Linked DNA regions of Homo sapiens: region 2 is linked to region 1. Evidence: fine-mapped expression QTL. A gene starts in region 1. The other region holds a variant in brackets. All regions are shown on one strand. Distances are from middle to middle. Region 1 holds the start of UBLCP1 (ubiquitin like domain containing CTD phosphatase 1). Region 2 has its middle 27 kb from the start of IL12B.

The links. PIP is the estimated chance that this variant, and not a neighbour inherited with it, causes the effect.
Region 2: its variant is the best candidate, but not a certain one, in a credible set for the expression of UBLCP1 in whole blood (INTERVAL, PIP 0.80).

What each region holds. Positions count from the first base shown.
Region 1 is chr5:159,260,917-159,266,300 of GRCh38, forward strand. It overlaps UBLCP1 (ubiquitin like domain containing CTD phosphatase 1), which reads left to right and starts at 2,374. Exons shown (of 11, transcript NM_145049.5): 1 at 2,374-2,444. RefSeq lists enhancers at 1,599-2,106, 1,941-2,010, 2,041-2,350, 2,107-2,614.
Region 2 is chr5:159,300,476-159,305,859 of GRCh38, forward strand. No RefSeq gene overlaps it. Among named protein-coding and RNA genes, the nearest start is that of IL12B, 27 kb to the right of the region's middle. RefSeq lists an enhancer at 1,417-2,616. The variant A/G (reference allele first, on the strand shown) is at 2,885.

The DNA of each region.
Region 1 (5,384 bases):
CTGAAAATATACCTTAGTTTGTAGATTCAGAGGTTTGAAGAATTGCCAAAATATGGGACAATGTCATCTGCCTAGAGCAAAGGAGTATATTGGAAGTTCTGAGGTTTGAAGAGAATGGAGTTTTTAAGTAGTAGTTTGGGGAAAGCATGCTGAATAGAGAAGGGCAGTAACTGGGCATGCTTCATTAAGAACCTGTATTCTGTCATGTGGGGCAGATTCTAAATATTTTCAGCTCTCTTACTGCAGGCAAGATAAAGGCAAAGGAGTAGGTATTAGAAGAGAGAGACAAACTTCTAGAGGGAACTAAATTTTTGAAGAGGATTGTCTTCCAACTGGGAAGAGAGGGAAAGCTTTTTGAGGGGAGTAGATCTGAGCTGGGCAAGAGAACACACTTGCTAGAGAAAGAAAATGGCCAGAGAGAGAAAAGGGGAGAAAAAAGTCTGGGGGAGATGGAGATAAAAGCAGAGTAGTGGGGGATTTCTGGCCTAGGTGCAGGAATGTCCTTTTATCTTCCAAAGTAAATGTGGTCACAGTAATATTAACAGTTTGTCATCTGATGTTGTGAAATTGTTTCCATATATTATTTAGACTCTCAGACCTGACAATCTATGGAGGAATTCCCAGGCATCTTTAGCTGCTACAGAGATGCATGAATGAAGGACAAGTATATTATCCTCCACACATTAGAAGAGAGGCTCCAGGGAGCAACAGGAGGCAAAAGTTCTTCTTTTCTTTTTTTTTTTTTTTTTTTTTGAGATAGTCTTGCTCTATCACCCAGGATGGAGTGCAGTGGCATGATCTTGGCTCACTACAACCTCCACCTCCCAGGCTCAAGTGATTCTCATGCCTCAGCCTCCCGAGTAGCTAGGGTTAAAGGCACATGCCACCACACCTAGCTAATTTTTTTTATTTTTAGTAAAGACTGGGTTTCACCATGTTGGCCAGGCTGGTCTTGAACTCCTGACCTCTAGTCATCTGCCTGTCTTGGCCTCCCAAAGTGCTGGGATTACAGGTGTGAGCCACACTGTGCCCGGCCAACATTTATCATTTGTGTTGAGACTATCCCAACCTTTCTCCTCTATTTTGAAATACAAAATAAATTATTGATTACTATAGTCACCCTACTGTGCTGTGGAACGCTACAACTTATTCCTTCTGTCTAACCATATTTTCGCTCCTTTTAACTTCTCTTCATCTCCTTCTCCCTCCTTATCCTTCCCAGCCTCTGGTAACCACAATTTTACTCTCTATCTCCATGGAGTCAACTTTTTTTTAGCTCCCACATATGAGCACCAAACTTCAATGTAAGACCCAAAACTATGCAGCTATTCCAAGAAAACGATTTGAGAAAATGCTTGAAAATGTTGGTCTGGGCAATGATTTTTTTTTTTTTTTTAATTAAGACTTTCTGAAGAAAAGGGCATACTTTTCACTGAAAAAGTTTGAGTTTTTTAAATGAGCAGATACTCATGCATTACTAGTGCAGCCAAAAATTATCAAAAGTAGGGAAGAATGCAAAATAGCGTGTGCCTCTTAACTAAAGAACTGTTAAGATACAAAACTTGGCTCTTTGCTGCCTTTCCCGCACTGCCAAGAGGGAAACATGAATTAGTTACATTGCCGTGGTGCTCACTGGGAGTTCGCTGTATGGACCAGATGGGTACTGCTCCGAATTTCCATTCAAGTCTGACATTCTTTTGTCAGCGTTTGTGTAACCGGTTTTCCTTGCATTCAGAGGAAAGACAGCATGGAAGTATGGATGGGAAGGTTGAGACGATTGGATACTGTATGGTAACCTCGATCGCAGCTCTCCTATGAGACTTGCTTCTTGGATTCTGAGTCACTTAAGCTTGCCCCTTCTCTTTCCTGACCCTCTTCCGTTTCCCCTTAGATTGGAGATTCTCCTCAGATTCTAAGTCTCTGAAATTATTAGTGTTGGCAGCCCCTGGGCCCATGGAGGGGTCTCAAGTCTTCAGTTCTCAAAGATCACCTTTTAAGCTTCATTCGGAACATGACACAGCCACACGAGTCCTAGCCCTGAATCTCACGAAGACCTCAGTACACCTGGAAAAGGCAGCACACCCAGTTACGACACTACTAGAGACGTCACACGCCTCAGCACCCATCCGCTCCCAGCCCAGAACGAGCGCACGCGCAGAACGAGAGAGCGGCCACCCAGGGATCGGCGCTATCTGCACAGCGGTTACAGTCTCGGAAAGGCCTGGCTTCTTCGTGGCTTTGTGGAGATCCCTTACAGCGGCCATTTGATTAGCACCCGAAGAGATTCAAAGGAAGCAGTTGTTCCGTCCCCAACATATTTCCGTTTCAAACCACCCACTTCCGGTTTTTCAGCCGGTTCCGGTCCCGCCCTTCACTTCCGGTCGCTTTCGGTCTCTCAGCGGCCGGTTTCTGCGTCCGCTGCCGCAGGTTCCACCGCGCTCCAGGTGAGGGGTTGCGGGGCACCCTGGCGCGCTGCCCTTGGAGACGCTGTTGGGGCTCGGGGACAGTGGCTTTGCGGCCCGCGCGGCGTGGCTTGCACTGCGGCGGGCTGGGGATAGTGTCTGTCCTAGTCTGACGCCCAGGCCCCTAGCCCCGGCCCGCTTAGTCGCGGGGGCCGCTGTCCTCCCATCCAGCAGTCTAGCCTATTTGGAGGGCTTTCTGTTTCCCAGTGGGTTTTGCGTCCCCAAACTTCATTCCTCCGTCTTCTCAGGCTTGTCCATCCCTCCCCTCAACCTCCTTGTTGAAGGCATCCCGGCCTTTTTGGTTCTGGAGCCTCCACCTGCCTCCTAATGCTCCCCTAAGTCAGTTAGCACAGCCCCCGACCCTGCACCACCTCGCAGTTGTTGCTGGTGTGCGGTTCTCGCCGGAGTTCTTAGTGCTTCACGGTTATCTTTTGCTGGGATTGTTGAAAGTTAACCTCCCGTTAATTCCCAAAGTGTTACTTTTACTGCTATACTTTAAAATTTCTTCATTTGCCACTTTTTAGGTTTGTGGTCCCGGGCAAGTTTAATTTCTTTTCAGGATTCTCATTTGTATAATGAGGACAACAGCTGTTGGTTCAGGATTGTGAAGCTTCAATGAGATAATTGTTTAGCATGTTTTTATTCCATCATGAACACCATTTGTATTGTGTTTTACAGTTTACAAAGTGCTGTCACAGGTGTTACTTCATACCTTAACACTACTCCTGTCCAGTGAATATTAGTAGCCTCATCTTGTTGAGAAGACTGAGGCCAAGAGGTGGATTGACTAGGCAAAGTCAACACAGTATGTTAGGTAGAACTCCAACCTAAACAGCTATTCTTGACCCTAGGTTGACCATATGGAAGTGTATTCTTTGCTTGCTTGTTTGGGTTTGCCAACTTCACTCCTCCCCACACCCCAAATCATTTTTCAGCTTATAAATCTGATGGGATCTGAAATGATACAAAATACTAAGAAAGAAGGTTAAATGTGAAAGCAAAATAGCTCATGCATTTATATCACACTGCTTCATTGGTGTGAACGGTCTTAATGATGAAATAAGGTTCAGTAACTTTTAAACAAATCTTAAAGACATATGCATTTACAATTTTTATGGTGTTTGTTTCGCTTGGCCCTTTAAGGCATTTGCCAACTTGGAATTTCCACTTGTGGGATAGGTGCTTCGTAACGTTTTTATGCTGCTTTATTAACCATATAGAGCCCATGCCCTCTGGCACATTTTTTTTAAGGCTGAAAACATTGAAGAGCCTGTAGTACTGACTCTCAAATTTGAGCATTCATCAGAGGTGAGGAGGACTGACCTTGTTAAAACACAGATTCCTAGGTCCCTTCTCTCCACCCCAATTACATTTCTACCAAATTACCAAGTGAGGTCAATGCTGTTCGTTAGCCCAGGGACCATGCTTTGAAAACCACTAGTCTAGAAGAGCAATCACTTGTCCAGGGTCACCTGGAACTCAGATGATTTCACTCCAAACTCTGCACTACTACGCATCACAATATATGCGATATTAGTGCTGGTTGCCTTTCTAGCTCTCGTAGGATTCCCTTTTATTCTTATGTCTTACAGAAAATATTTAAACTGTATTTCAGTTTAACTCAAAAGGTCCACTTTTAATTGAAGAATATAACATTTGTTATAGTTCTGTCTAAAATGGAATACGTTACCCTAAATTAAGACACTTGCTTTACATTTTCAGTAGAACACATTGTAAACATAGGAGTAAATATACATTTATAGTTCATATTTGTATTCATATATGAGTAAATATAAATATGAATTTATGGCTCTCTCTTCTAATTGGCCTTTTAGTAGGAGACACTGTTTTTAAATTATTTTTGGAAGTGGAGATTAAAAATTTAACCTCTTTCTTGCAGTTGGTCCTAATAGTTGCATGAAGAGTGCAATCAAATGTTTCATCAAATAAGTGAAAGCATTGGAAATACCAATACCTTGAGATTAGAAAATCCAGTTCTCTGGACTGTGGGAGGAATGAGTTTAATGAAAAATAGAAAGCTTTATGCAGGAAGAGACATATGTTTGGTTATTTACATGAGTGGCAGCCACTATATAATCTTTGTGTGCTTAGATCTGTACCCATGGGTTTTGTATTTTCTGATTGATATGGTTTGGCTGTGTCCCTACCAAAATCTCAACTTGAATTGTATCTCCCAGAATTCCCACTTATTGTGGGAGGGACCCAGTGGGAGGTAATTGAATCATGGGGGCCGATTTTTCCCGTGCTATTCTTGTGAATAAGTGAATAAGTCTCATGAGATCTGATGGATTTATCAGGGGTTTCCGCTTTTCTGTCTTCCTCATTCTCTCTTGCCACTGCCATGTAAGAAGTGCTTTTTACCTTCTGCCATGATTCTGAGGCCTCCCTAGCCATTGTGGAACTGTAAGTAGCTGGGATTACAGGCGCCCACCACCACCTCTGGCTAATTTTTTTTTGTATTTTTAGTAGAGATGGGGTTTCACCACATTGGCCAGGCTGGTCTTGAACTCCTGACCTAAGGTGATTCACCTGCCTCAGCCTCCCAAAGTTCTGGGATTACAGGCATGAGCCACTGTGGCCAGCCTTGGGTATGTCTTAGCAGCATGAAAACAGACTAATACGGTAAATTGGTACTAGTAGAGTGGGGCATTGCTGAAAAGATACCCGAAAACGTGGAAGCAACTTTGGAACTGGGTAACAGGCAGAGGTTGGAACAGTTTGGAGGGCTCAGAAGAAGACAGGAAAATGTGGGAAAGTTTGGAACTTCCTAGAGACTTGTTGAATGGCTTTGCCCAAAATTCTGATAGCTATATGAACCATAAGGTCCAGGCTGAGGTGGTCTCAGATGGAAATGAGGAACTTGTTGGGAACTGGAGTAAAAGTGACTCTTGTTATGTATTA
Region 2 (5,384 bases), 40 kb after region 1:
ATGTCCCTGAGTTATTTTTCAGAAACGCAGACTCCCACCAGATGGAAAATGTTACATAGGCTGTCACACAGATTGAACTCTGACTGCCATTCCTTGTTCTAATTTTCTTCCTGAGGGGCCTGAAGAAAGTCATGCACACAGTCCAAACCTGAACATTCCTTTCTGTGGACCCCAAGTTTTTAAGACACAGCTTTATTTTCTTAACCAATTGCAAATCAAAGAATCACTGAATCTATTTATGACCTATAAGCCCTGGCTTCAACATATCCTCCTGCCTTTTTGAGCCAAACCAATGTATAACCTCCATGTATTGATTTACAATTTTGCCTATAACTTCTGCTTTCCAGAAATGTACCCCTGCCCTTAAAATCTCTTGCTGATAAGCCATGGGGAGTTTGGGCCTTAAGCATTATCTGACCAATTCTCCTTGCTTGGTATCCTACAATAAATCCTTTTCTTTCTCTCATTGAACATCTTTTTTTATAATTAATGAATAATTTATTTTGTTTTTGTTGCTGCTGTTTACCTACAGCTGTTTATCTCACAGCAAATCTTGATGTCAGCATTTGGCTTTGCTGTGCCAAGTGAGCAGACCCAAGTTCAGTTCAATAACAAATCCAAAAGCCTTTGTTCTCTGCTATTCTTTGAGTTATCTATTCCTTGAGGCAATGAATGACTGAATGGGGGTAGGGATGCAGAGGAAGACCAAGAGGTACAAAAAATATATAGAAAATTTTTAAAAAATATTTTACAATTATTTACCAACTACAAATAGCACTTTTTATTTATTAGTGATGAGGTTCAAGACACATCACCCCAATATATGAGTGTACTGGACTAGAATATATCACCCCAAAATATGCTCCTTTAGCATAAGGATTATGTTGATCTAATTATTTTAAGAAACAGCAGACCTAGGAGAAGCTCTGAAAACAAGAGTAGAAATTACACTTTTGTAAGGAAAATTTGCATTTACAAAGGAAATCTCCAATTTAAGGGTGTTTTCCTCTCTGCACCAGGAAGAGAAGGATGACTGTACATCATTATACATGCCTACCAATGGAGAAGACACTGACTTAAATCTGCATAACAAACCTAATGCTGTTTTATGGTGTTTTGCCTGGCCATCTTGGCAAAGCTGGACCTTCCCCACCCCGCTCCCTTTTTTTTGTTTCGGTAGATGGAATTCAAACCACCTCTTAGAGAATTACTCATTTTCCCTGTGTATCTCCCGTGGTATAAATGAGACATACATGTTTGTTTTTCTGTGGTTAATCTGTCTTTTGTTATAGGAATTTTAGTTGTATCAGCTAAAAATCATGAAAAGTAGAAAAAAAATTATTTTTTCTCTGCTACATTAGACATGCAATAAATATGTGTGTTTGAGGCTGGGTGTAGTGGCTCATGTCTGTAATTCCAGCACTTTGGGAGGTCAAGGCAGGCGGATCACTTGAGGTCAGGAGTTCGAGACCAGCGTGACCAACACGATGAAACCTTATCTCTACTAAAAATACAAAATTAGCTGGGCACAGTGGTGCATGCCTGTAATTCCAGCTACTTGGGAAGCTGAGTGTTATAAATAAACTTTTGGCGCCACAAAAGAAATAGCACTCAAACATAAATTTAATTTTCTCAGCAAGGCAATTTTACTTCTATAGAAAAGTGTGACTCGTGGATGGAGCAATGGTGAGAGCACACCTGAACAAGGGAGGGGAAGGGCTTTTTATTCCTGACACAGGTAGCCCCTACTGCTATGTCGTTCCCTTATTGGCTAGGGTTGGACCACACAGTCTAAGATAATTCTGATTGGCTATTTTAAAGAGAGAAGGAGAACAAGTCGGAGTGGCGGGGTGAGTAGTTTGGTGGGAAGGGCAGTTACAGAAAAGAGAACTCAGGATGATTCAGGTCAGAGCAGGTGACCAGGGATGACTCAGATGGAACAGATGACCAGGGGTGACTCAGGACAGAGCAGGTGACCAGGGGAACAGATGTGAACTGCTGATTAGAACTGGTGGAAAAAGTTGTTTACTGAAACTATGGGCGAGGAGAATGAGGAAGTTAAACTTTAAAATGGAGAACAAAGAACTGAACATACTGACATACTGATTCTTTGAAGAGAAATTTAGAACTCACTGTATTCAACATGAGGCAGGAGAATCACTTGAACCCTGGAGGTGGAGGTTGCAGTGAGCCGAGATCACGCCATTGCATTCCAGCCTGGGCAACAAGAGTGAAACTCGGTCTCAAACAAAACAAAACAAAACAAAACAAAACAAAACAAAACAAAACAAAACATGTTTGAATCTGCTTAACACAACATTTTTAGACGGACCTCTTTTGATGTTCCTAAATCAGGCTGTTAAGGACTATCTTCCATGGGAAAAGGTGACTTAAGAGTGGCAATCACTGATACAGTAAAGTTCTGCTTTGCTGCTTTGCAAAACTTTGCTTTATTCTCATTTTCTGGGGGGGATGTATCCTAAGCCTTAGGCAAGAATTACTTAAATTTAAAATTACACTTAGGTACATGAATATTCATAGCAGCATTAGCCATAATAGTAAAAAACTGGAAACAACCCAAATGTCCATCAATTGATAAACGGGTAAATAAAATGTGGCATATCAATGCAATCAAATATTGCTCAGGAACAAAAGGAATGAAGTACTGATACATGCTGCAACATGTATGAACCTTGAAAATATTATGCTAAGTAAAAGAAGAAAGTCACAAAGGACCACATATTATATAATTCAATTTATATAAAATGTCCAGAATAGACAAACCCACAGAGACAGAAAGTAGATTGTGGTTGCCTAGGAACATGCAGAGAAGGAGGGATACTGGGATTGGGATTTGTGTTAGTCTGTTTTGCATTACTATAAA[A/G]GAATACCTAAGGCTGAGTAGTTTGTAAAGAAGAGAGGTTTATTTAGCTCACAGTTCTGCGGCTGTTCAGGAAGCACGGTGTCAGCATCCGCTCTGCTTCTGGTGAGGCCTCAGGGAGCTTACAGTTATGGTGGAATGCAAAGAGGGAGCTGGCATATCATATGGCAAGAGAGGAAGTGAGAGAGAGGGGAGAGGCCCCAGGCTCCTTTAAACAATTAGCTGTCACGTAAACTAATAGAGCAAGAACTCACTCATCACCAAGAGGATGGCTCAAGCCATTCATGAGGGTTCCACTCCCATGACCCAAACAGCTCTCATCAGGTCCCACTTCCAACATTGGGGATCAAATTTCAACATGAGATTTGGAGGGACAAATATGCAAACCATATCAGGTGTTGATGGTGAAGGGGTGCTGTGTTTCTTTTTGGGGTATTGAAAATATTCCAGAATTTATTGTGGTGATGGGAGCACAACTCTGTAAGTGTATAAAACCTGTTGAATTAGACACCTTAAAAGAGTCACTTGTAGAGTATGTGAACTATACCTCATTACAGCTGTTAGAAAAATGTATACCTTGGTGGTCAAATTGTAGTAGCTAGTGGTGGCTTCAGTTTGCGGAGTTAGAAGAGTAAAGTCAAATATGAGGGTTTTTATATTTTGGGTAACTTTTTCATTACCTAAAAGTGAAATTTTCTCTTTTTGTGGATCTTAGGTGGAATGTAATGTAAGGGAGAAAACCTTTCTCTCTACCCTCTTAAGGTTTGATCATTGAGTCTGGGAAGTAAATAGACAGTAGATAGATTAACAGGAAAAAACAATTTTAATTATGTGCATAGGCATGGGAATCTCACAAAAGATGAGACTCAAAGAAGGGCTAGATGATTAAAGTTTATATAGCATCCTGAGCTACAGAAAGGAATTGGGGCTTGGAGCTTAATTTGGGGGTGGGGCATGACACAAATTATGGGAGGGAAAGGAGAGGAAATGCATGGTGAATAAAAGTTGTCTTGTTATGCAGATAAACAGTCTCCAGAGTAATAAAGGTTGTCTTGGAGCACCCCTCAGAACAGGTGATAGTTTGTGATAATGTCTGGGCTTGGCAATTACCTTCAGTCTGTTCTCCTCCTGTGATACAGTTAATTTTTCCTAATTAATGAGATTCCTGGGGAGGAAACTCATGGCAATTGAGTGCCTTTTTGGAAGATCTATCTTTAGGCAGACGAGGCAAGTTCAGAGACCACCCTTCCCTGTGCTTTTGAAACAGGGGTGAGAGACAGCAGGGCAGAAGTTCAGGGAGGCTTTTTGGTTCTCCCTTAGTTCAAAGCACTCTGCATGAAAGCCCCAAACTTTGGGGTATCATTTTCAGAGCCCCAACAGTAAACTTACAAATTTGCCTATTTGTGTAGACTTGCCTCTTGAGGGTCAGTAGTCAGTATTTTTCTTACTCAGTGAAATTTCAAAATTTACAGAATTGAAATCACTCGGACTTAAATTTTAAAATGTACTTGTGTAAAGAAGATACATATAGTAAAATCCTTTGAAAGCAGACATTGAATCTTTCTGAAAAATGATAGGACATTTGCAGTTTTTATGTGATGATCTAGTTAAATCCATTTGATTTCTTCCCCCTGTTCTGCCTTCTCTTACTGTCCATTCCTCTTCTGGTAGAAAGAGTTGACTGCCTGTGTACAGGTGGCAGAGTTGTTTTCTGTTCATCAGAGTCAGTAGTAGTAAAATTCAGTTGCTGGATTAGCCAAGTGTGCTCTGAATTCTGACCTCTTCAATACAATAACATTTTGCATGACTAAGTCTGTACAGTTTGTTCCAAAACATTACCCTGCAAAGCAGTCTGCAAAGCAGCTTGATCCATGCTTGGACAGCCATCCCCAGCTTGGTCCTCCAGGTTTGTGGACAAGGATCTGGGACACTGAGGGCTTGTAGAGAGTAGATATGGATTGGATTAAGCACAAATGGCAACCCTAGACTACACAGGAAAGTCGTAGTCGGCCACACCTTGGGCTTCCTATGACAGCAGCATATCAGTGCTAACGAGCCAGGGCTTGCAAGCCAAGGCACACCAATGCATTTGCAAACTCCAGAGTCACCATAAGAAAGTCATTTATTCCAACGCTTGTAGAGAGAGGCTGCTTGTCTCTAACAGTATATGTGCAGTGTTGAAAGTAAATCTTTAGATAAGTTAAATTTAACCAAATTTAATTGAGCGAAGAATGACTTGTCAATAGGGCAGCTCTCAGAACCAGCAGAAGTTGAGAGAACTCTGCTCCCCGATATGGGCTGACAGCAAATGAACAGAAAATGGAAGTGAGGTACAGAGACAGCTTGGTTGGTTACAGCTAGGTGTTTGCTTTATTTGAGCATGGTCTGATCAGTTGGTAACCTATAATTGATTGGAGGTTTGCTGCTGTGTTTTACTGCTGAGGCTCAGCTATTAGCTACAAAAATATATTAAATTAGCTTTCAGTCAGTTCATACCAAGTTA